Homo sapiens: one gene and its partners. The protein of the gene in region 7 purifies or fractionates together with the protein of the main gene of each other region. This does not show direct contact. Each region holds a gene or a part of one and is shown on either strand. Other genes may lie near its edges.

Region 1 (3,500 bases), on a different chromosome or scaffold from region 7:
TGGAGAAGCAAAGAAAAGCAGAAGCAGAGATGACTACTTATTTGAGAAAAAAAAAGACTTATTCTAGGTCCGTGTCAAACTTCATTGAATAAATTATCTTCGTTCCTCTCTTCACTATTACAATAAGAGAAGTGGTCCCTATTCATTAATACTAGATTAAATCATGAACATTTTAAGTGTGCATCAGAACTAGAAGAGGTTTATCCATCACCAAAAGTAAAACTGATCAATCTATTACCAAAACAAGATAATAATTTCAGAGCAAAGATACTAGTATATAGAAATTATTCACCTGTAGGATAAAACCTTACAAAATAAGTAGAGTATATTAGTCGAATTAAACGGAATTGCTAAAATTCGACTACTTTCACCTGCAAAAATATCAGTTTCATGTGGTTCAACTTCATATATCACAAGATAAGACAAAGAAAGCAATTCCATCATAACAGCCAACTTGTACACACAACACACACACACACACACACACACACACACATGCAAACACAGACAAATGGAAAAAACACTGGCAAAAGGAAGCATTCTTTTATCTAAAATATACCCAAGTTTATTTGCACTAGAATTGATAACCAATAATGAAAGATATTTCCATATCACAAACTAGTCCAATCCCAGACTACACAGAAAATGTCCTCTGTAATATGAAACTATATATTGTTTCTCTATATAGAGAAAGCAAACTAGATAATAAATGCCAAATTACCTGATAAGGAACGATTGACATTAGAGTTGGAATCTCCAACAGTAACTGCAGTAACTCCAAAGGACCCAGTCTTAGCTGAGGTCACTGGGATGAAGGTCCTGCTTTCCTTCGTGTGTGGGTAATGAGAGGTATAACCTTCCAGTAAAGTAGTTGAGCCTTCAGAATGATTTGGGTCTCTTCTTCCACCTGTGACATCATTCCTATCTGTGTGGAGGTGGAATCAGTGATGAACCCGTATTTGTAAGATCACCACCCACCATGTGCTTGTCTCCAGAACACACAATTGCTGCAAAAGCTTTCCACTTGTTATCCATAAATAGGGAGAAATAGAGTGAAGTTTGTCATACTATTGAACAGAATAAATATTTTGCAATAGACACTACTTGGACATCACTCAACAGAAGAGATTTTGGTGATCTTAATACCCAGAATTGGCATTTGTTGCAACATCTGCTTGGGTTATTAGGTAAGGCTATGTCACTACAACTGTGATCTTGAAGTCAGCTGAGGTACTAGATAATCTTGAGTTCTTTCTCAATTGGATTCATCTTTGATGTAGTGGAGGAAACATATCATTGGATTGAAAGATAAAATTTTGCTGCCTGCAATTAAAATAGCAAATGCATGGTTTCAAAGGCCTGAGGCTACTAATTTAATTATTCTTTTCTTTTCCAGAAGGGACTGCTTTTTAGTCATCAGCACCATGGAGGTCCAGAGGACAAAAGGCAAAACAATATTATTGTGAGGAATGTAAAGTGATATAATCAGACATTTACGCCAATTATAAATCACACTGCAAAAGAACTGAAATCATAGCAAACAGTCTATTGGACCACAGCGCAATCAAATTTGAAATCAAGACTAAGAAACTCACTCAAAACCATACAATTACATGGAAATTAAATAACCTGCTCCTGAATGACTTCTGGGTAAATAATGAAATTAATGCAGAAATCAAGAAGTTCTTTGAAACTAATAAGAACAAAGATACAACATATCAGAATCTCTGGGACACAGCTAAGGCAGTAGTAAGAGGGAAATTTATAGCACTAAATTTAAACGCCCACATAAAAAAGTTAGAAAGATCTCAAGTTAACAAAAATAAATAAATAAAATAAATCATATATAAGCAATCCATTATTGTTAAAACAAATCACTAACTCTAGAGTGAAAGAAACCCAACTTTTAAGATGAAGAAATGTAGTTTGCACTTAATGTACGAAGAGGTATATAAAACAGAAAAATCAGAGAACCACCACCAGACGCACCTTTTGATTAAAAGTAACAGTGTAACGGCAGCTAATGGATGCACCTCCACCAAAGACACTGCAAAAGTACCCATAATTGATTGATTCTTATCAATAGCTGAAGCCAACTAGGTTTTATAATCCTTACTGCTTGATGTCAGAGTAGAAGTTGTTGGATGGTCTTTATCTTCTTCCAAGCCTTCATGTGATGTAGAGAAGCTCTGAGAATTACTCTGCTCTGTTTCAATGAGGAATGAATCCAGTGTTAATTTGAAGCTACGGTACAAATCCTGTTATCTGCTAGCAAGGAAAATCTAGCTAGAGTAGAGTCAGATGGATAGGTGCATAGGAAGACCAAGGTTTGTGCACACAATTCTCCTCTGATTGATAGAAATATACAGAAGAATTCTATTTTGCCCCTATTTGGTTCTGAAGACCCTTTATTTCTCAGTATAATCATCAAAGGTAAAGTGGCAAGGTGAAGACTGAGCCAAAACTTTGCCTATCCTGGATTGTCCAGGCTCAATTGCAGCATTGCTCCCAGTCACTCCAGAAAACCAGAGAACACAGAGACATGGAAAAAAGAATATTTGAATCCCAATGCTCCTATCAGTAACCAAAAGCACCTAACTGTGTGTCAAGAAATGTGACGGCAGGGAAAATGAACACTATGATAGCCTGTAGTCTAGTTGTAACCACAAAAGAAAAAGAAGCCTATCTAGAATAGCCTACTCAAGTAACACAGATCAAATTTATACAAGGAAATACTTAGCTACCTTGTAAAGGTCATTAAATTAAAGTTACCATTTTACTCCATTATTAAGTTATTTCTTAATTTCACCTGTGCATTGGGATTTTCATCACTGCACCAAGGAAACGCTTGCCTGGGCAAACACAGGGCCCTCAGTGACATATATCAACTGGAGGTTGACCCATTGCCCATATCTAAAATCACTTGGACTGTTTCAAGTTTATTTCTTTTGTGTTCTTTTAAGAAAGGTACTGACCTGAGTTGCAGGTGCAAAAACTTCATAAAGCACACCCATAAGCCATGCCCACCACCGAATAAATATTACAACCAGGAGAAAGACAGTCACTAAATCCCAAACCCAATGTCAGAACAAAAGCCAACAGTGACATAAAACGGAAATATAAGTCCTTCTTTGGCAAGGACCATTCATAGGCTTATTTGCATCTCCTTTGATGCTTAACGCTGTGCTATTTACATTGCTGACCATCAATACATGCTTGCTGATTTTTTTCCTTTGCCTAAAGGGCTCATATGAAGGACTCTGCCCATTATGTGTGGCAAGCAGTAAAATGGGACCTTCTTAATTCTAGATTTCTTTTGTATTCCTCAAAGAAATTATGAACGACTTTAGGCTGATCTCTAGGACATCCCTGCACATAGAGTAGAAATTAAGGCTACTAGAATTTGAACATTTCTTAGTGATAGAAAGAGATACTAGCAATGTTTTGTTGTTGTTGTTGTTCCAGGGATCCCGCCACCTTTGTTGATTGTCAATAACATG
Region 2 (3,500 bases), on a different chromosome or scaffold from region 7:
TGATTCTCCTGCCTCAGCCTCCTGAGTAGCTGGGACTATAGGTATGTGCCACCATGCCCGACTAATTTTTGTATTTTTAGTAGAGACGGAGTTTCACTATGTTGGCCAGGCTGGTCTTGAACTCCTGACCTCATGATCTGCCTGCCTCGACCTCCCAAAATGTTGGGATTACAGGTGTGAGCCACTGCGCTTGGCCACTTACCTGCTTTTTGTTACTGTAGATTAGTTTACATGTTAAGAACTTTACATAAACAAAAACCACATATAAATATAAATGCACTTTCTTTTCCATAGGCTTCTTTCATTCTGCATAATTTTGCATTCATGTTGGTGAGCTTTTAATTCTCTCTCGTGGTCTTTTTTTCTCTCATTTTGTATAAACTTTTTGAGCTTGGCCAACATGTTGAAACCCTGTCTCTACTAAAAATAAAAAATTAGCCAGGCATCTTTAATACCAGCTCCTAGGGAGGTTGAGGCAGGAGAATTGCTTGAACCTGGGAGGCAGATGTTGCAGTGAGCCGAGATCGTGTTACTGCACTCCAGCCTGGGCGACAGAATGAGACCCTGTCCCGGAAAAAAAAAAAAAAAGTTGCAAACATAGTACAAAGAGTTCTCGTATCACTTGCCTGCTTCTCCTGTTGTTAACATCTTACATAACCATAGAAAAATTATCAGAGATAGATGAACATTTCTGCAACAGTATTCACTAAACTATAGATCTTATTTTAATTTTTACCTGTTTTTTCCACCAGTGTCCTTTTTCTCTTCTAAAATTTTTATCTAGGATCATCCCATGATGCATTTAGCTATTTCTGTCTATTTGTTTGCCATCTGCAGTAGTCTCTGTCTTATCTTTTGTGACCTTGTCACTCTCAAAGAGTAATGATCAGTTATTTTGTATAATGTTCCTCAATTTGGGTTTGTGTGATGTTTTCTCTTGGTTAGACTTATTAGGTATTTTTGGCAAGAATACCACAGAAATGATACTGTCTTTCTCAGTGCCTCCTACCATGGGATTCATATTGTCAGTATGTCTTATTGGTGATATTGTCCTCCATCAATTGGTTATGGTTGTGTCTGTAGGGTTTCTCTAAAGTTACCTTTTTTTGGACAGTTAATATATATTTTAGGGGAGATACTTCAAGAAGATGCAAATCCTGTTTTTCCTCAAACTTTTGCCTGCTCATTTTCGCATCCATCTGTGGGTCTTGTCTGTAACAGTTATTATTGTACTTTTGCCTCATGGTAATTCTCCCTCGCTCTGTCACCCAGGCTGAATGCAGTGGCACGGGTACGATCATGGCTCACTGCAGCCTCGACCTCCTGGGTTCAAGTGATCCTCCCACCGTAGCCTTCCAAGTAGCTGGGACTATAGGCATGCACTACCATGCCTGACTAATTTTTTATTTTTTTGTAGAGACAGAGTCTCAATATGTTGTCCAGGCTGGTCTTGAACTCCTGCACACAAGCAGTCTACCTGCCTCAGCCTCCTGAGGTGCTGGGGTTATAGGCATGAGCCACTGTCCTGGGCCTGAGTATGTTCTTTTGTTTGTTTTATTTTTATTTTTTATTTTCATTTTTCTTTTTTTTTTTTTTGAGTACGTTCTTGAATGGAGAAGTTGAACTGTCTCGCACCTGCTAAATCAGTTTTCATTGCAGTTTATTTAATGCAAAGTATATTTCTGTAATTTCTTATATTCTTAGAGCAAAGCATATCTGATTTAAATTATGTTTTGGTCAGGCGTGGTGGTTCAAGCCTATAATCCCAGCACTTTGGGAGGCCGAGGTGAGCGGATCACCTGAGGTCAGGAGATCGAGACCAGCTTGGCCAATGTGGTGAAACCCTGTCTCTACTAAAAATACACAAAAAAAATTAGTGGGGCATGGTGGCGGGCACCTGTAATCCCAGCTACTCGGGAGGCTGAGGCAGGAGAATTACTTGAACCTGAGAGGCAGAGGTTGCAGTGAGCCGAGATCACACCACCGCACTCCAGCCTGGGTGATGGAGCGAGACTCCCCTTTTTTTCCTTCTTTTTTTTTTTTTTTTTTTTTTGAGATAGAGTCTTGCTTCATTGCCCAGGCTGGAGTGCAGTGGTGTGATCTCAGCTCACTGCAACCTCTGCCTCCTGGGTTCAAGCAATTCTCCTGCCTCAGCCTCCTGAGGGAGCTGGGATTACAGGTGCCCGCCACTACGCCCCACTAATTTTTTTGTGTATTTTTAGTAGAGACAGGGTTTCACCATGTTGGCCAAGCTGGTCTTGATCTCCTGACCTCAGATGATCCGCTCACCTTGGCCTCCCAAAGTACTGGGATTACAGGCTTGAGCCACCATGCCCAGCTGAGAATCCCTATGAAAAAGCAAGGCCAGACACTGTGTCTCATGCCTATAATCCCAGCACTTTGGGAGACTGACGCGAGCAGATCACTTGAGGTCAGGAGTTCGAGACCAGCCTGGCCAACATGGTGAAAACTTGTCTCTACTAAAAATACATAAAAAAAATTGGTGGGGCATGGTGGCGAGCACCTGTAATCCCAGCTGCTCAGGAGGCTGAGGTGCGAGAATCGCTTGAACCTGGGAGGCGGACATTGCAATGAACCAAGATTGCACCACTGCACTTCAGCCTGGGCGATAGAGCGAGACTCATTCTCAAAAAAAAAAAAAAAAAAAAAAAGATATTTTAAGTGATGTTTTAATAAGCTGCATCTGTTTTCAGTTCATTTATGTGTATAATTCAGTATTTGCCATACAGTAGACCCTTGGTATTTTTAGATTTTATATTTGTTTTAACTGTTTTGACTGATTCTTAAGGGCAGTCAAATTAATAGTTTATAATTTTGCTGAGATGTAAATTTGAATCACATGTGCTGTGGGGTTGGTTTTTCAATCACATCATTAGGTACACTGAGTTCTGTGAAGTTTTACCTTACTGCATTTCCTGGGCAGTTGAGCAGTCATTTTTATCTTTTTAAAATCTTTTAAAATTTATTTATTTATTTTTATTATTTTTTGAGATGGAGTCTTACTCTGTCGCCCAGGCTGGCATAATCTCGGCTCACTGCAACCTTCGACTGTCGGGTTCAAGCCATTCTTGTGCCTCAGCCTCCAGAGTAGCTGGGATTACAGGTGTGTGCCACCATACCCGGCTAATTTTTGTATTTTTTGTACAGACGGGGTTTCACCATGTTGGCTAGGATGGTCTCGAACTCCTGAGCTCAAGCAATCTGCCTGCTTCGGCCTCTGGGAAAGTGCTGTGGAATTATAGGTGTGAGTTACTGGGCCCAGCCTGAGCAGTCATTTTTTACTGGGGACATACATCAGAGTCACTTGTAAAGCCTTTTGAAGTACAGATCCCTATCTGTTGGCCCTTCAAATCAGAATCTGCAGGGATGGGTTTCAGCTCTCTACATTTTAAAAGTTTTTCCAGGTGATTCGGTTGTGCCTGCTTAAGAACGGCTACAAAAATTTTTGTGAGTTGGGGATTTGCAGAAATTGCAATATG
Region 3 (3,500 bases), on a different chromosome or scaffold from region 7:
TAGAACAGAGCTGAGCCCATTCCTGTTGCTCCGTCATGACTGCCTCCCCGACCCCGGGGAGGAAGGCAGGGCTCAGCTCTGCATGGAAGAATGTGTGCTGCTAATTGAGGTTGAATCATTTGGCACTTAATTTTCACTTTCATTTGAAATCCTCTCTTCGGTAAACTGGCGAATCCAGCCTGGGATTCCAGTGGACAGGATGACATCAGCCTCCCTAGCTGTGTGCGCCAGGCCCCACCAGGTTCTGCCTGGCCTCTCGGCAGCCCCATCCCTGCTCCTGCCGCTGTGTGTGTGGGTGCCTCATGATGTCCAGTGGCTCAAGCCTCTGCCTTAGCTCAGGCACCCCTTCTGTTGGGTATTCTGTTCCCTCCTGCTCCACCTCTCCCTGCCCCGTGACACCTCCAGCTGCCTTCATCTTTCAACCAATAGCACGGTAAGGGCCTCCCCTCCTGGCTGATGTGCCAGTTTCCCCCTCTGTTCCCCTCTGGCCCCTCCCTAAGACTTCTCCAAGAGGGTCCCTCCCTCCCTCCCTCCTTCCCTCCCTCCCTTCCTCCCTCCCTTCCTCCCTTCCTTCCTTCCTTCCTGACGGAGTCTCGCTGTGTCACCAGGCTGGAGTGCAGTGGTGCGATCTCGGCTCACTGCAACCTCTGCCTCCCGGGTTCAAGCGATTCTGCTGCCTCAGCCTCCCAAGTAGCTGGGACTACAGGCATGCACCACCACACCCAGCTAAGTTTTGTATTTTTGGTAGAGACAGGGTTTCACCATGTTGGCCAGGATGGTCTCGATCTCTTGACCTGGTGATCCACCTGCCTCAGCCTCCCAAAGTGCTGGGATTACAGGCGTGAGCCACCGTGCCCAGCTGGGACCTTTTATAAATGCAAATCTGATCTCATCACCTCTGCCTGGCTTGGCCCCTTGCTGGTTCCCCATTGCCCTGAGAACCAAGACCTGACTGGTCCGTGCCCCTATGACATCAATCCTTTCTCACCCCCAAGTCACTAGCCATGCGTGCCCTGTGGTCTCTGGGTTCCTTGAATGCACCATCCTTCCTCCGTGGGGGTGGGCTTCGGTGGTGGTCAGGTGATACCTGGGTGCTGGGGCCCCTTCCACCTGCCCCATTCCCCTCCTCCACTCCATTCTAGGGCCAGGCCTCAGAGTTCTACAGGCACTAGATGAAAACATGGTCTCTGCTCTCTCCAACTCCATTTCCAGCCATGAAATAGCAGCGATGCTTACCATGTGGGCCTTTCTGAATTGGGTAACAGGATCTAGCCTTGCTCTGCCACCCACTGGCTGGGAGATCTTGGGCAAGTCCCTTCCTCTCTGTAAGCCTCAATTTCTTCATCCGGAAAATGGGGTGAGGGTTGCCCATGGTGGTCTGTGCATAAGGTTCCTCTCTGGTCCTGGCTGCCTGTGGGTCTCTTAAGTAAGGGGGACCCTCAGGGGTGTCACACCATTGACACATTCCTGCACCTGTCCCTCTGGTCCTCTGGGGAGGGGCCCTGTGGCAGGGGCATTTGGGGACATGGAAAATGAGACTGCTTAGCTTCTCAGCATCTCCCAGTGGGGTGGCTTGAACATCCTCTGTTTTTTTGGATTCTCCTAATGGCTCCAAGAAATAGGTATTTTCCCCTCCACATTAAAGAGATTGAGGCTCAGAGAAGTTAGGTCACTCACCCAGGGTCACACAGCCAGGATGTCCTGGCTTCCCAAGGAACTCTGTGTTCCCGCCCAACAAGAAAGGTCCTTGACCTCTTCAGGCCTCAGTTTCCTCATCTGTCTAATGGGGGTAACTTAAGATCCTTTTGTCTTGGATCACATGAGACTTCAAGACCTAACATACAAAGACCCTCAGCCCCCTGCCTGGCCTCAGAGAAGGTGGCTGTTGCTTCTCAAGGTCCCAGCTCTTTCCCCATCACCGTGGCCCTGAGATTCCAGGGATGACCCAGAGGAGACAGGTGAATCTTGTGGGGCTTCTTGGCACTAGCACTGTGGCTGGACATTAGAGGAGAGAGTGTCCAAGCATTTCCCAAAAGTGTGTTTCTGGTCAAAACTGGAAAAACAACACAGGTGTGGCTTTTCCCATCATGCCTCACTGTGTCTCCCTGGACAGCGCCTTCTTCCTGAAATCCCACAGCAGTGTAGGTGGTACCCAGAGTAGGTGCACGCCAGCACCTGCTGTGCACCAGACCGCGGGCTGGCCCCAGGGTGCAGCGGCAAACAAATGAGGCTTAGTGCCTGCCACCTGGGATGCTGAGTTCCCCAAGGAGTGCTGGTTTAGGTGGGGTGGTAGCCCCGACATGGCTGGAAGTCAGGAAAGGCTTCTTGGAGGAGGTGACATTGAGCAGGGGCTGGAGGGATGAGTAAAAGTCAGCCAGCCTGGCAGTGGGGAGGAAGAGAAGGGAGAGAGGAAGGAGAGTGGGAAGTCAGGGGCCACTGTTTGCAGGCACTTTCCAGACAGGCGGGAACAGGGCCGTTTGAGGAACTGAGAGGTAACCAGGAATTCTGTCCAGGGCTGGACAGGCAAAGTGTATTAAAAAGGCTGGGCTGCCCACTTTTTGGGGGTGTGGGGGACTCCTCTCAGGAGAGGTGTCTTTTGTGTTACTCTGAAGTGTTAGCGCTTCTGCAGCCTAACATTGAGTAGCGTTCTCTGAGGACTTCCTGGAGGAGGTGGTTTAATTCCCTTCCACCTGCATTCACTGGGTGACAGGCCTGAGACTGTGGAGAATAAGCAGGCATCGGCCTGGCCCACACAGAACCCACAGCCCTTGAAGGGGTGGAGACTCACCAAGTGCCTGCTCGTGGTCCAGGCAAAGTAGTCACCTGAGAGAGGGAACCATGGGCTCTTTACAGGTAGAGGACGACGAAGCTCCGCCAGAGAGGAGGACTTGTCTGGGCAGGGTTTTGAAGCATGAATAGAAGTTGGGAGTGAAATGGGGCTGGAAGCGTATTCCAGAGGGAGATACAGACAGGATCAAAGGCTTGGAGGGCTGGGCAGCCTGGAGGGTGTGGGGGCCAGAGACCAGGTTGGTGAGAACATATGGACAGCTAAGGTGGGAAGGACATTCTGGGCAGGGGCTTTGTGTGGACCAGCACAGGGAGGTGGGCAGTGTGAGCCTTTCCCGGGAAACGGCTTGGCTGGTGTGCGAGGGGAGGAGTAGGAGGAGAAGTCAGAGGAGCCGGAGGTCTCAGTGGACCAGGTCAGGGCCTGTGTGGGGGACCACAGCGGGAAAAGTGACAGTGATTCCCTAACCCTCAGGGGCAGGCGGTGAGGGCATTCCCGGAGGCACAGCTGTGGCCTGGGGCAGTGAGCACTGGTCGTGGTCACTGGTTTCTGGTTTCTTACCTAGTTGGGTCACTCACTGGCTGTGTGGCCTTGGGCAAGTCACTGCATCTCTCTGAGCCAAGTTTTCCCTTCCACAGCGTGGGTAGCCAGCACCTTCCTCGCGGGGATGTGTGTAGCAAGAACTGGCTTGCAAAACCTCCCCTATTCCGAGCTT
Region 4 (2,367 bases), on a different chromosome or scaffold from region 7:
GGCTGGCTTCCAGTAGGCGTGGTAGCCGGCTGCGGCTGGTGGGCATGGAGCTGTGTGGCATGGTGTGGGTAGGACTGGTGAACAGTGGCTGCAGCAGGAAAGAGGGAGAACCAGTGCTGAGCACACCAGAGGGGGCTGGCACACAGCCCAGAGCAGAGGGACCAGGCGCAGGACTCACCATAAAGGGCTTGGGGGGTAGGCTGCTCTGCAGAAGGGTACTGAGGGGTAGAGGATGACACGATGGCCTGGGGATGGCTGCCCGACGTCAGCATGCGTGGGTTGCTCTGAAGCATGGGGGCAAACACCGGCTGGCGGGACAGAGAGAGGAGTGGTTGGCACAGCCGCCAGCTGGGAAGGTGTCCTCCTGCCAGTCACTGCGTGCACAGCACCGCTTGGGCCTCCTCACAATCACCCTATTGATTCAACATTCATAACGATCCCACCCAGCAGACACTATTTTCTCTACACTTCAGAGATACAGATGTCCAATGCCTTGTTACAGGTACCACCAGAGCCAGGGCTCAAGCCCAAGTCTGACACCGCCAATACCACAGAGGGCCGATCCCACCTACAACACTGCCTGCCACCCCTAGCCAGCTCCCAAGTCTCTGGAGAAGATGGGATCCCTAGCAGGGGCCCTGGATCCTCACTGCCCTCCTGGGCCGCAGTCACCTGTGAGGGGTAGTGGGCCATGGGCTGCATCATGGCTGGCTGGCCTGGGAACTGCTGAGGGTTGTAGGGGATGTAGGAAGAATAGGGCGTGGCAGCCACCAGAGGCGGGCCAGCAGCCGCGGCGGCCTGCATCATCGGCGGGGCTGAGGCTGGCTGGTGTTGGTCCGAGCGCTGCGGAGGAAGGGAGCCTGGAAGAGGAGGAGGAGAGGAGAGCTCAAGCTCCACCTGCCAGTAGGCCCTTGGCAGCCTCGCCGCCTGCCCCTCCCAGCCCTGCTCACCTTTTGCTCCCCGGTACTTGCCCTGCTGCCCAGGCACTGAATTGGATACAGGATATGGATACATCTGAGGTGCCTGGGGATGAGGACACAGATGAGGCTGAATGACTCGCTCACGAATGCCCAGACAGGCCTGACCTGGTCCCTCAACCAGCGCAACCAAATCCCACCCCGCTAACCCTGGGCCCGGCCAGTCTCTCTGCATACCTGCACAGCTGGTCCCATGTGGATCTGAGGTATGTAGGAGATGTACTGGGGGCTGTATAGCCCACTCTGGCCTGCTGTCAGCACCGGGATGGAGGGAGTTGAATGAGTCCGGGGCCCCGGAGAAGTTGGGGTACTGGTGGATTTATTCTGCAAAAACAAGGGAGGACAATTTTATTTTGTATTTTCCCCTCTACTCCTGGCCATGCCTAGAGTGGTAATAATTAACATTCGTGAAATGCTGCATACCAAACATATTCTGCACTTATCTTGATAAAGCCTCACATTAAACCCTATGAGGAGATGAGTATTCTAAAGTTACAGGTGAGGCAGAGAATGTAAGTGACGTCCAAGATCACAAACCTTCCAAATACAGGGGCTCAAGCCAAGTCAGCTGGCCTCTGTTCATGACTACCCCACTCCAATACTCCCTCAGCCAAATGCCAAGAACCAAAGAAAAGCCTGTTAACCCCTCATCAGACTCACTGGGATCCCTGATCCCCTGATCACCCAAACCTAGAGACCTGAGTCCATTTTCCCCAAGCCAGCCCCAAAGGTGCCATCCTTACATTTTTATGACATCTCCTCACACTGCCTGCCAGGCAAGTGGTCCTGGAAGTGAAGTGTTCCTCCCCCTATTCATCTATAAGCACTGCCCAAGTCTCCCCACAGAAACCAAAGTCCACATTCTCCTGTCCCAGCTCACCACAGACAGCAGAGGCTTTGTAGGATTGAACTCCTTAGCATTAGGGTTCAACGTTGATTTCTTTACTTGTCTGTGAGAGAAAGTACAGTAAATCTTCACGGCTTGCTCTCATCCCTCCTGCCATCCTCCCAGAGCCCCACCCCGCTCCACTCACTCAGCAACAGGGCCCTCATCTTTGTCTTCTCCCTTGATGAGGCCCACCGGGGGGCTGCCAGTTTGGCTTGGACAAGGTGGTGGGGGCTGCTCTGGCCCCTCAGTGCCTCCTGATGGTGCCAGGGGTGGTTTGTCCTCCTTATCCGATACGGACTCTGTCTTGGAGGAGACGGGAGACCCCATGGGCTCTGAAGTCAACAGACCATCAACCTCTTTCTCCTTTCCTTTGGGCTCCTCCTTTAAGATCCGGGGAGGAAAAGGATCCAGGCTGTTCTCAGGGGAGCTACTGGGCTGAAGCTGGAAGAGAGAAACACACACAGTCCAGTCTGACCCAGACCCTAGTCCTGGCTTTCTTCT
Region 5 (4,060 bases), on a different chromosome or scaffold from region 7:
ACTTAAAACAGTTTACTAATTATTCAGGATAATCCACCTCAACCTTTCTTTGCAACAATGTCATGGCTAATCACTACTCTGCTTTAAGAATTCTAGGTGCTAGTACCAATAAAAGATACCACAGTTAAAATATGAGGATAGCTTTGGTCAAGTTTTATGAGACTTTAAGTATAATTTTCTAAACATTACACCAAGTGAAACAAGCCAGTCACAAAAGACTACATATTGCATGATTCCATTTCTATTCATGATTGTCTGAGGCTTGAGGGGAGGGAGGATGCCAGCAATGGGAATGACCAGTAAAGGGTATGGATATCTTTTTGGAGTGACAAAAATGTTCTAAAATTAAATTGTAGTGACGGTCACACAACGCTGTGAATGTACTAAAATCCACTAAACTGTACATTTAAAATTGGTGAAGTTTACGGTATGTGAATTATATACCAAAGTCGTTAAAGAAAAAAAATCCACTAAAGAACAAATGAAATAGAGAATCCTCTTAACACGGAGGCATAGCCTATCTTCTGAAGTAATACATAAAGGATTTTACATCAATAAATAACTTTCTAAATGGTAGCCCAGTGGTCAAGAAATGAGAATGAATTTTATTTTTTGGAAAAAGTGCTGATGATTTAAGTTTAACAGAAAATTTACATCATTCCTTCCCAATGGGCTTGCTCTTTACAAAAACAAAAAACTAGACACACCCCTAATAGCTTAAGGAGGTAAGGTCTCTAAAATGTTAGTTCACTAGAACCAGGTTTTTATCTACTGCAGTTCAGTCAGTTTACCAAAACAAGGAAATCAAAGATAACATTATTTTAAAAAGGCAATTAGATGGATTTCCAGATAACGGCACAAATGAAAAGAGGACAGAAAAAAGATGTGTAGTCCAATCCAATTAGTAAAGCTATTTGTTATATCATATATAACTTTACAGGACAGTCTGGACTATCTCTTCAAAGGGTCACTCAAACCTACTGTTTCAAGGTAAGATTTTCGTAAACTTTTCCTTGGCAATCTTGAGAAAGCATCACTGAACATCTTCAATAATAATAAGTTTTTGTTTTTAGAGCTGGAAAAGTAGGTAACAATATTCTTATAAAGTTTTACATGAATTATCAGAAATTCTTACTCTCAGGCCTTTCTCCTCCCTTTTGTACTGTCTTCAATGAAAATTACGGATCCAGTTCTCAGGACCCTCATCCGAATCACACCACCACCACGTGACTGGGTTTACAATTTGTTTTTATGTTTAGTAGGCTTATTCCCTTGTTTAAAATACGATTACAGTGTACTATACTCCTACACTAAAGAAAAAACATGCCTAGCTACCAAAAGAAAATAAACCATAACCGTATTTTGAAGTATTTTACTTCTAGAGCCTTAATGCCATCGGAAAAAAAAACTGCACAAAATACAACTCTTGGAAGATTTAACATCGAAAGCTCAATTTCAATACACACACATCTACCATCACTGGGTTGTTTTAACTGTTTCCCAAAAGTAAAACTTAAAAACAAATTCTAACATATATACGCCAAACTACGCAAAACAATTGCTACATCACCCACCCCCACCCCGAAAGTTCAAAAAGCAACAATTATAGTTCACTGGGCCCAGACGACCTACTTGAAACATGCCCATTTCACATTCCTATTTGATAAATCACCCACTTTTCTGCTCACAAAATCATCCCCGAAGTCCTTATTAACGTTTAAACATGAAAAAAAAAAAACCCTTTGGAAAATCAGTACGTACTCTTTTCGAAGTTCCAAATCTGGAATATAAGGGCCGGCTAAGCGTCCTTTATTCCTCCCAGGAGACTTTCCGTTTATCTAGCTGCCCTAGAGACCAGAAAGCTAGGGAGAGTACGCCCCTTCCCCCTCCCGTCAGCAGCCAAGCCTGGCTTAAAACCCTTCGCCACCGGGCGGCAGAATTACAAAGGAGGCCGTCTGCCTCCTTTGTCCTGGATTTGGGAGTTGAGCACCTTCGTCGCCATTGGCTTTCCTCCCCCAGCTCCAGCCTCTCTCATCTTGGGAATCTGCGTCAGAAGTCACTCGCAGTCCCGTCAGCCCAGGTAGCCCTGCCGAGACTGCGGAGGAAGGGAGGCCGCGGTGGGAGGCCAGGCCCATCCGGCGCCATTTCCATCGGGAGCGCGCCCGGCAAACCCGATCCTCCCTCCACCCAACTGCCCGGCCTTTCCCTGCTCGCTTCACTACCCACCCTCATCCCTTCCAGGGAGCTTTGACCACCCCCTCCCCTGGCCTTCTAGATCAGTTTTCGGAAGCTGGGGAACAAAAAAGTAAAAAGAGCGGGGAAGGGCGGGAAGCCGAGGTGGCCGCGCCACTGTACCCAAAATGGCGGAGGCCAAGCCAGCAGGGAAAGGGGAAAATGCTGGATGTCCCCTACTTCGGGCCTCGGCGTCGTCCACTGAATTCCACCTGAGCAAGTCCTCCCATCGGCAAGCCGCCCTCCCTGAAGTGGGAGATGGTCGGGGAGGCGCAGCCCCGCCGCTTCCAAGCGGCGGCCTCCGAGCGGCGACCACCCCACTACCCCCCAACCCAGCCCCTCCCGGCCTTTCGTCCTTCTCCCGACTCCGCTCTCGAAACCACCAGCCCAACCTACCCCCTTTTACTTCAGATACCCTGTCAGGCGATAGTTACGCCGACTCTGGTGCTCGCGGGGTCCAGTTCAAAGAAGGGAGAAGTCGTTTGCCTCGTGTAGCGCTCGCCACAACGGTTCTCCCAACCGTCTCCAGCGGTGACAACCGCTTAGGGAGCTGCGCAGCACAGCTACTGGCTTGGGGGGATGGGAGGGAACGAGCAAGAAGTGGGGGGCGGAGCGAGAACTGCGAAGGCGGCCGGCCCCACTCTCGCGAGACGGGAAAGTCGGTTTCGCATGGCGCTGGCGGCACGCAGCGCGCCTGCGCGGTGGTGGGTTGCGCAGCTGTTGGGGGCGAGGTAGACCGAGCAGAGGCTGTTCCAGTTAAAGAGCTGCAGCGCGCACCGTTTTTCTTGCTTACGTTAGAACCATCCAGTTTTCAGAGCGTACCATTCTGCCGCCTCGGGGCGATGGCAATGGCAGTTCTGCCAGTGTGTAGAAGGAACCGTGCCGTAGCGCTCTGGAGAAGTTCTCCGGTGATCTGCCCCCACCGTGAACAAATTCTGTGAGGGCCCCGCCCTGGCTAGGCATCGACGGCGCGGAAAGGGCCCCACGTGGTTCGACCGGCAAACGCGGGGCGGATTTTCTGGTCCACCATGTTTGCATTGTGCGGTGAAAAATAGGAGTGTTTCTGGGCCGCGAAGATGAAAGCGTCCACTGGGGCCGATTTCGGCTCTCGGGCTGGGTGTCCGCCTCCTTCCCCTGGCCCAGAGTTGCTGGCCGCCCGCCAGCGCGCTTCGTCCCAATGTGCCGCGCGGGATCCGGGTTTCTTGGGTGTATTCATGTCCACCACGTTACCGTTCTCTCTGCAAATCCTTCCTCTTTTTCTCCTCTGGCCTTCGCGTTTTCATCTCTCCCGCCGTCAGTGCCTCGGAGACTGATTAGCCTGTGGAGGCCGACGTTGGGTTTTTTTTATAGTTTTGCGTTGTTGAAAATTGCGCTTCCAAGTGACACCTAATAAATAAGTACATTTTGGTTTTGCTGTCATGTCACCAAGGTTCCTAATGACACATTATGGCTTTTTTTTTAAGTTCCAAAAAAGGCTGGCCGCGGTGGCTTACGCCTTTGAGAGGCCGAGGGGGAGGATCGCTTGAGCGTAAGAGTTGGAGACCAGCCTGGGCAACATAGTGAGGTGCTGTCTCTACAAAAAATACAAAGATTAGCTGGGCGTGATGGCAGCGCACGGGAGTAGATGGGACTCCCGAGTAGTCCCAGCTACACAGGAGGCTGGGCAAAAGGATGGCTTGTGCCCTGGAAGTTGAGGCTGCAGTGAGCCGTGATTGCGCCAGTGCACTCCAGTCTGGGAGACCGAGGGAGACTCTTGTCTCAAACACAAAGAAAAACCCCGAATTTCTGCGCAGAGGGTTAAGGGGAAGCCTGGTAAAGAGATCAGTGC
Region 6 (3,500 bases), on a different chromosome or scaffold from region 7:
ACCATTTCCTTCAAGTTCTGCAGGCTCCCACTGTATCAGAAAAGCCTAGGTTAAGACTTGGCCAGCCTTCTCCACCCTCACTGAAACCCAGCCAGATGTCCAACCACAGAATCTTGGTAGCACAGAACATGTTAGAAAGATCTTTCCTAGGTCTTTAAGTTGCTCCTACAAAGACCTGCTAAGGAAAACATCTTCTAAATTTTGCCTATAGCATAAAACCTAAACCATATGGATTCTTTTTGCAACAAATTATTTTTTATTATAAACTGGTAATTTATAATTTGGGTTACAAAGTTATGTAATCCAATACATACAGTTTGGATACAATGTGGAATAATTAAATCAGGTTAGTTAACATATCCATGACTTCAAATACTTAACATTTTTGTGGTGAGAACATTTGAAATTTACTCTTAGCGATGTTTTTTTCTTTTTTCTTCCTTTTTTTTTTGAGGCAGAGTTTCGTTCTTGTTGCCAAGGCTGGAGTGCAATGGTCAGATCTCAGCTCACTGCAACCTCCGCCTCCCAGGTTCAAGCAATTCTCCTGCCTCAGCCTCCCAAGTAGCTGGGATTATAGGTACCCGCCACCACCCCCGGCTAATTTTTTTGTATTTTTAGTAGAGATGGGATTTCACCATGTTGGCCAGGCTGGTCTCGAACTCCTGACCTCAGGTGATCCACCTGCCTCAGCCTCCCGAAGTGCTGGATTACAGGCATGTGCCACTGCGCCCGGACAATTTTTTTTTCTTAAGACAGGATCTCGCTCTGTTGCCTAGACTGGAGTGCAGTGGTGTGATCATGGCTCACTGCAACTTCAATCTCCTGGACTCAAGTGATCTTTGTCTCAGCCTCCCATGTAGCCAGAACTACAGGTGCATGCCACCATGCCCAGCTAATTTTTTTTTTTTTTTTTTCACTTTTTGGAGAGACAGGGTCTAAGTTGCTCAGGCTGGTCTCAAATTTCGAGGCTCAGGCAATCCTCCCACGTTGGCCTCCCAAAGTGCTGGGAGCCACCATACCTCGCCATCTTAGCAATTTTGAAATGTCTAATACTCTCTTATTAACTGTATTTGCCATCCTATGCACATACTAATTCTTTACTGCAACTTCCTATGACCTGAGTCCTTTCATAAGAATCTGTGTAGTATCCCATGTAGCACCTAGGTTTGTTAGGACATTTAGTTACTCTTTTCAGGAGAGAAAGGTCACTGCCCATGAAGCCCTTTTTTGGGGGAAGGGGCACACCCACTCACCAATGGTACAGATGATGCCAGTGTTCCGGGCTGTGATGGGTGGTGAATCAATGTCCAGGCGGCACATGTGCTCCAGGAATGTGTCAGCCATGGCTGCGTGCAGCTGCTGGGTCTGAATGAAGGCAGTCCCGGCTTCACTATGGGGCTTCGACATGGCTGCTGAGGTCCTGGGTCGAGACAAATTGAAAGAGAGTGGTAAGACTGAGAAGTGGTTAATATACCATTTAGCACAGAAGGCTGTCTCCTGCTTACACATTAACTCAATAAGCACGCTTTGTACACAAGCCACAGGGAAGCCAGACATGATCTGGTTATGTGGGTGCTCCTCATGTTAGAAAAAGGGTTCACCAGATTGTGAACAATGGAAAGGACCTTACTGAACAAGTTAAAACCTCCCACCCACTCCACATAGTCCCAAGCACCCACAGTAAGCAGGTCTCTCTTACACTGGGCTGACTGACATCTACCTAGACAGCTTTCTCACCACCCTATCTATAAATAACATCATTTAACATGCACTGAAGGAGCTTCCAATGAAGGAAGTTGTAACCAATCTTCCAGTGATACAAACAACTGACTCCTAGCTTAGTGCCTTGATAAGCCTAGATCTCTGCATGTCAAGCTGTCACAAAGCTACAAATAGCTGCTTTGTCGTGGGGCACCCATATTGCCTCTTTACAATCCTCACCCAAACCCAAAGTCATTCCCCTGAATGCAAAAGCTTCCATCCCAGGAGTCTAAACCTAAAACCACATCTACTGTTGGCCAGAAGGATGTCAGGACACGCAAAGCAATTTGCAATTTGCAAAGCAAGGATAACATAAGGGCACTGGTATAATTCTGAAATTATCACAACTACATTAACAGGATAGTTGCAAACATAGAGAAATTAAAGTTGCTGGTCAAATCTTTTCCCCAAATGATTTTTGATACACATCCTGATTTCTTTTCTAAGCCTGACAAGTATACCACCACTCTGTAACACAGACCATCAGTTCCAGGTAATTAACTAGCCCAGGTCACAACCCTGACAATGGCCCCAACCTTTGCTTTCTTCATTAATGACTTACAACTAAACTCACTCAGCCTGTTAGTTAGCTGATTAGAGACAAAAACTCAGGAGAAGCTTCCAGGCAGTGTTTGAATAACTATCAGGTAAGGATGTGAACCAGACCAGGCAGTGTTTGAAGAACTATCAGGTAAGGATGTGAACCAGAAGCTTGCTACACGTCTCATCAGAAAGCTGTTTCCTTGAGTTCTCAGACCAAGGGCTACTCTTTCTAAAACGCTTGAGCCTAAATGCTTCGGCCAAGCAAGGCTCAGGAACAAGCTCCTCTTTAGCCCTTCCCCACCTCATCCTAAATCTCAAAGTTCCAAATCAAGGCATCTCACACATATGACCCTTACTCCTTTACCCTGTTCCATCTCTGACTTTGTGGGCTCTCTGGGTGGCTCGAGTAGAGTATACATCTAAATCCATCTCTGCCATCTCCAAAGAAGGCCCGCTGAGGTCCAAGGAGCTCTGAAGGCAGTAGTGAACAGTCTGTTGGCTATGGAAAACTGATGGCCACAAGTCCTCAACCACAGATTCTAAAACTTTTAAAATGGGGAAATAAGATACCGGCTAACGGTTCAACATGGCAAATGCACTCTTCATTTCGATGTGTATTTCCTAAGCCCCTAATATCTACTACGTACCAAAATGAAAAAATCAATCCTCCCTTCCAGGACCTATATGGTTTTGTATCTCCTAGCACCTAGTATGTGGAAGCATTCCAGTGTTTGTTAAATGACCTTTCAGTCTCTCTGAATGCCTCTTTGTCAGAATCAAAGTTATGCCTCTGCTCCCCCTTCCCTAAATCTGAGGAACTTCTGCATTACTGACAGGAAAGCCTGGGGCCCCTGGTCCCTTTCCCTACACTCATGGTTGAGGGAGGGCTCGCATACCTTCAGAGCTCCCAGCTGGGCTTAGGGAAGTCTGGCTGTTAAGGGAACATTACTGAGAGATGGCACATCAGGCCAACTGGAACACAAAGGCTTTGCTGTGGCCTCCAATGGGCCTACAATCTAGGGACTGTATTGTGAACAAAATAAGATCTGAATAAGTGGGTTGGAGTAACTAATTCCACTCTTTTTAAAAACCATCAGCTGGCTCTTCTTAGACCTGAGATATGAGGGTCTTCCTGTAAAGACCTGGCTGGGGCCACTGAATATCAGGTCATACCTTTGGTTCTCTGGGGTTGGGCT
Region 7 (3,500 bases):
GATCTCTTTATGTGGTACTGATTTCATTTCCTTTGGATATATACCCAGAAGAGGGATTGCTGGACCATATGGTAGTTTTATTTTTAATTTGAGTAACTTCTCTACTGTTTTCTATAATGGCTGTACCAATTTACATTCCAGCCAACAGTGTGCAAGGGTTCCCTTTTCTTCACACCTTCGCCAACACTTGTTATCTCTTGCCTTTTTGATAATGACAATTCTAATAGGTGTGAAGTGATATTTCATAGTGGTTTGTAATTTGCATTTCCTTGATGATTGGTGATGTTAAGCACCTTTTCATCTACTTATTGGCCATTTTGATGCCTTCTTTGGAAAGAAAGCCATTTGGTCTCTTGACTAATTTTTAATCAGTTATTTGGTTTTTTGCTATCGAGTTGGTGAGATCCTTATACATTTTAAATATATAGGACTTATGCGAATATTATTTCCCATTCTGCAGACTGTCTCTTCACTCTGTTGATTATCTCCCTTGCTATGCAGGAGCTTTCTAATATAGTCTCATTTGTTTATTTTTGCTTTTGTTGTTTGAGCTTTTGGTGTAATTTCCAAAAACTCATTGCCTAGACTAATGTCAAGTAGCTTTTCTCTTATGTTTTCCACTAGAAATTTTATGGTTTCAGGTATCGTGTTTAAGTCTTTAATCCATTTTAGTTGACTTTGGTATATTTGCTAAGATAAGCGTTCAATTTCATTCTTTTGCACGCAGATAGCCAATTTTCCCAAAGGCATTTAAAAAAAAACTTTCAGGTTCAGGGTTCATGTGCAAGTTTGTTGCATAGATAAATTGCGTGTTGTAGGGGTTTGATGTACAGATTATTTCCCCATGCAGGTAATAGGCATAGTACCTGATAGGTAGTTTTTCAATCCTCTCTCTGCTCCCACCGTCTACCACCAGGTAGGCCCTAGTGTTTGTGCCTACTTTGTGTCCCTTGTGTCCATATGTACTCAATGTTTAGCTCCCACTTATAAGTGAGAACATGTGGTATTTGGTTTTCTGTTCCTGTGTTAGTTCGCTTAGGTTATTGGCCTCCAGCTCCATATAAGTTGCTGCAAAGGACATAATCTCGTTATTTTTTATGCCTGTGTAGTATTCTACAGTGTGTATGTATCACAGTTTCTTTATCCAATCCAACATTGATGTGCATTTAGGTTGATTCCATGTCTTTGCTATTGCTAACACCATTAATTGAAGAGAGTGTCCTTTCTTAGATTTTGCCCAACTGAAATATAGACTGAATCAAGATCTGCATGGACATAAAGGTCTATTATTACAAAGTCCCATGAATGAATGCTTTTGGAACTTTCTAAGGGGGCAAAGCTTTGCTTCTTCCAAAAAATGATATAAGTAAACTTCTATGAAAATAAGAATTGGAACCACAGCTTCCTTTTGGCTTTGCTAAGCAGAAAACTTCAATAAATTGGTAAGTCATTTATAATGACCATTTCTGGTCAGGAGTTTTCATCCCTTTAAAAAAATATATCTTACCTGATCCTGTATTTTACAATTGTAGATGGGTTAGGTTTATGGCATCTTGAGATTTTTGTAGTATGTGGCTATGTATATCCGAGAAAAACTAAAAACTCTACTATGAAAATATTTTAAAGATAAACCGAAAACTATTAGGAAAAAGAAGACAGCAAACATACAGAAATCAAGACTGAGTTTTATTGCAACTGAGAATCAATATTCACTTTTTTATCTTTTGGGTATCCGAAGGCAAAATAGGAATATATGTAATATAAGCTGCTCTGTGACATCACATTCCAAGGAAGAAAGACCAAAGTCTTATTAGCACCCATAATTGAACTCAAATACTTGGCCAAAGTTTTGCCAACCAATAAAATTTTTCTTTGCGTGCTGAGGGATTTTTTTTGAGTGAGGGTGGTTAGAAAATTATGAATTTGCATTCATATGTTTCTTAGCTCCTAAAGACGCATTGTTGGATTTTAGTTTTGCTGCAGATATCCTCTGACATGCTCTGTTGACATTCACCCCAATTCTGCTCACTTCTGTTATGTCCTAGCTCTGTACTTGCTGATGCTACCTATAGCATAGAGTTACCATGAGAAAAATGTTTCAAACTCAAGACACGAATCTCTTGCTGCTTGAAGGAAAACATGTAAATTAGAAAAAGAGATAGTGAGTGCGAATGAAAGATTTGCTTACACTGATTATTCTTCCCAATTACTCCTGGAAGCTAAAGGTAAAAAAGGAAACCTAAAGTCTTTCTTTTTAATCAGACTTCCAATATAATTTCACAATTTAAATGTCCTATATTTGCTGGGTACTAGTCTCACCTATACCAAATTGAAAGTAAATTTGATGCAAAAGTGGGTAGTTAAAGAGCTAGATTTCAGAGTTATTCAAATTGTAGAATTTTTATAGCACAAAGTGCATTTATGAAAAATAATGCTATTGCAATTGGGTAAAGAAAGAAATTGAGTAGTTAAAAAGAACATAATTACTTAGAAGATCTCCCTCTCCTCTGAACATCTAAACTTGAACATAAATTTAAAACACTAAAAGGTATTCACTTACTTATCTTTATCTAATTCGTATCAAAATCATGCCTTACCTTGATAACACGGAGCTATTCTTTTACTCAGTTCTGTTCGTAAATCAGGGGGCACTCCATAGCAACCACCAGTGGGGAGCTTATTTTCATTCTTTATGTAAAATATATTTTTCCATCTATGCCCACAAGTCTGAATAAAATAAAAGTAGACCAAATGATGTGAAAGCTGCACCCAGGATAGCTGATTTCACGATGGATCTGTGGACCAGTTCCAATACCTACCACGATGGATCCATTTTCTCCTGGCTGTCTGGAAAGTGTGACCCCCAACCACTGATTGTCTCTCTCTTCCAAACAAGTCTTTCCACAAGGTTCTCCATTAGGGCTACCTATAGCATGTGAAAATAATTTTATCAGTTGTATTGAAAACATTCTACAAAAGAAGAGAAAACTGTGCACTCATCCCCAGTATTTTTCTGTTAACTACTTCTCTATCTTATATTCAGTGCACAATGTGAGGATAAATGTGAATTACTCTGTGCCAACTAATTATTCTCTAATACAAGGTGACTTTGGTTGTAGAAATGACCTCTGACTGGTAGCACCATAAAAAGATAGACTCAATCATATAAGAGATAGCTAACAGGACTAGGAGTGGGGAAAACCACTTAAAGCTAATACCAGGTTGTGCAACTATAACTGCTGTGTCTAACGTTTGGAAAAGAATTAGCCATTTATCTAACAACGTAAGCAATATTATCAGAGCACTTTTAAAAATGTTTCTTCTACTGAGATATTAAGAATAGAAAGACTATAATACATCCTCAGCAATTAAGGTACAATTTATTGGAGCTGGAAGGTGATGATTAAGCATGCAGAAAGTGGAACATACAATTAGCATACCAATAATGCCTTGCGTTTATAAGAAACTGCCCTATGTTTACATTTATTGGAATATGACTC

The links.
Region 1: the proteins of ITGA4 (region 7) and CD44 purify together in Homo sapiens (co-immunoprecipitation; one study listed by IntAct). This does not show direct contact.
Region 2: the proteins of ITGA4 (region 7) and DRG1 purify together in Homo sapiens (affinity purification with mass spectrometry, with the first as the bait; one study listed by BioGRID). This does not show direct contact.
Region 3: the proteins of ITGA4 (region 7) and RAC2 purify together in Homo sapiens (affinity purification with mass spectrometry, with the first as the bait; one study listed by BioGRID). This does not show direct contact.
Region 4: the proteins of ITGA4 (region 7) and ATXN2L purify together in Homo sapiens (affinity purification with mass spectrometry, with the first as the bait; one study listed by BioGRID). This does not show direct contact.
Region 5: the proteins of ITGA4 (region 7) and HNRNPH3 purify together in Homo sapiens (affinity purification with mass spectrometry, with the first as the bait; one study listed by BioGRID). This does not show direct contact.
Region 6: the proteins of ITGA4 (region 7) and PKM purify together in Homo sapiens (affinity purification with mass spectrometry, with the first as the bait; one large-scale study listed by BioGRID). This does not show direct contact.

What each region holds. Positions count from the first base shown.
Region 1 is NC_000011.10:35,208,671-35,212,170, reverse strand, and holds part of CD44 (CD44 antigen isoform 1 precursor), read right to left. Parts: intron 2,554-3,500; exon of another isoform or gene 2,207-2,553; coding exon 2,117-2,206; exon of another isoform or gene 1,397-2,116; intron 926-1,396; coding exon 722-925; intron 1-721. UniProt on the Homo sapiens protein: Cell-surface receptor that plays a role in cell-cell interactions, cell adhesion and migration, helping them to sense and respond to changes in the tissue microenvironment.
Region 2 is NC_000022.11:31,406,104-31,409,603, forward strand, and holds part of DRG1 (developmentally-regulated GTP-binding protein 1), read left to right. Parts: intron 1-3,500. UniProt on the Homo sapiens protein: Catalyzes the conversion of GTP to GDP through hydrolysis of the gamma-phosphate bond in GTP. Appears to have an intrinsic GTPase activity that is stimulated by ZC3H15/DFRP1 binding likely by increasing the affinity for the potassium ions.
Region 3 is NC_000022.11:37,234,270-37,237,769, reverse strand, and holds part of RAC2 (ras-related C3 botulinum toxin substrate 2), read left to right. Parts: intron 1-3,500. UniProt on the Homo sapiens protein: Plasma membrane-associated small GTPase which cycles between an active GTP-bound and inactive GDP-bound state.
Region 4 is NC_000016.10:28,832,999-28,835,365, reverse strand, and holds part of ATXN2L (ataxin-2-like protein), read right to left. Parts: intron 2,308-2,367; coding exon 2,012-2,307; intron 1,928-2,011; coding exon 1,858-1,927; intron 1,302-1,857; coding exon 1,155-1,301; intron 1,024-1,154; coding exon 951-1,023; intron 861-950; coding exon 673-860; intron 309-672; coding exon 179-308; intron 89-178; coding exon 1-88. UniProt on the Homo sapiens protein: Involved in the regulation of stress granule and P-body formation.
Region 5 is NC_000010.11:68,330,804-68,334,863, reverse strand, and holds the start of HNRNPH3 (heterogeneous nuclear ribonucleoprotein H3), read right to left. Parts: upstream 2,801-4,060; 5' UTR 2,648-2,800; exon of another isoform or gene 2,629-2,647; intron 2,081-2,628; exon of another isoform or gene 1,762-2,080; intron 1-1,761.
Region 6 is NC_000015.10:72,217,691-72,221,190, forward strand, and holds part of PKM (pyruvate kinase PKM), read right to left. Parts: coding exon of another isoform or gene 3,478-3,500; intron 1,421-3,477; coding exon of another isoform or gene 1,408-1,420; coding exon 1,254-1,407; intron 1-1,253. UniProt on the Homo sapiens protein: Catalyzes the final rate-limiting step of glycolysis by mediating the transfer of a phosphoryl group from phosphoenolpyruvate (PEP) to ADP, generating ATP.
Region 7 is NC_000002.12:181,474,386-181,477,885, reverse strand, and holds part of ITGA4 (integrin alpha-4 isoform 1 preproprotein), read right to left. Parts: intron 2,927-3,500; coding exon 2,820-2,926; intron 2,728-2,819; coding exon 2,598-2,727; intron 2,067-2,597; coding exon of another isoform or gene 2,035-2,066; exon of another isoform or gene 1,666-2,034; intron 1-1,665. UniProt on the Homo sapiens protein: Integrins alpha-4/beta-1 (VLA-4) and alpha-4/beta-7 are receptors for fibronectin. They recognize one or more domains within the alternatively spliced CS-1 and CS-5 regions of fibronectin. They are also receptors for VCAM1.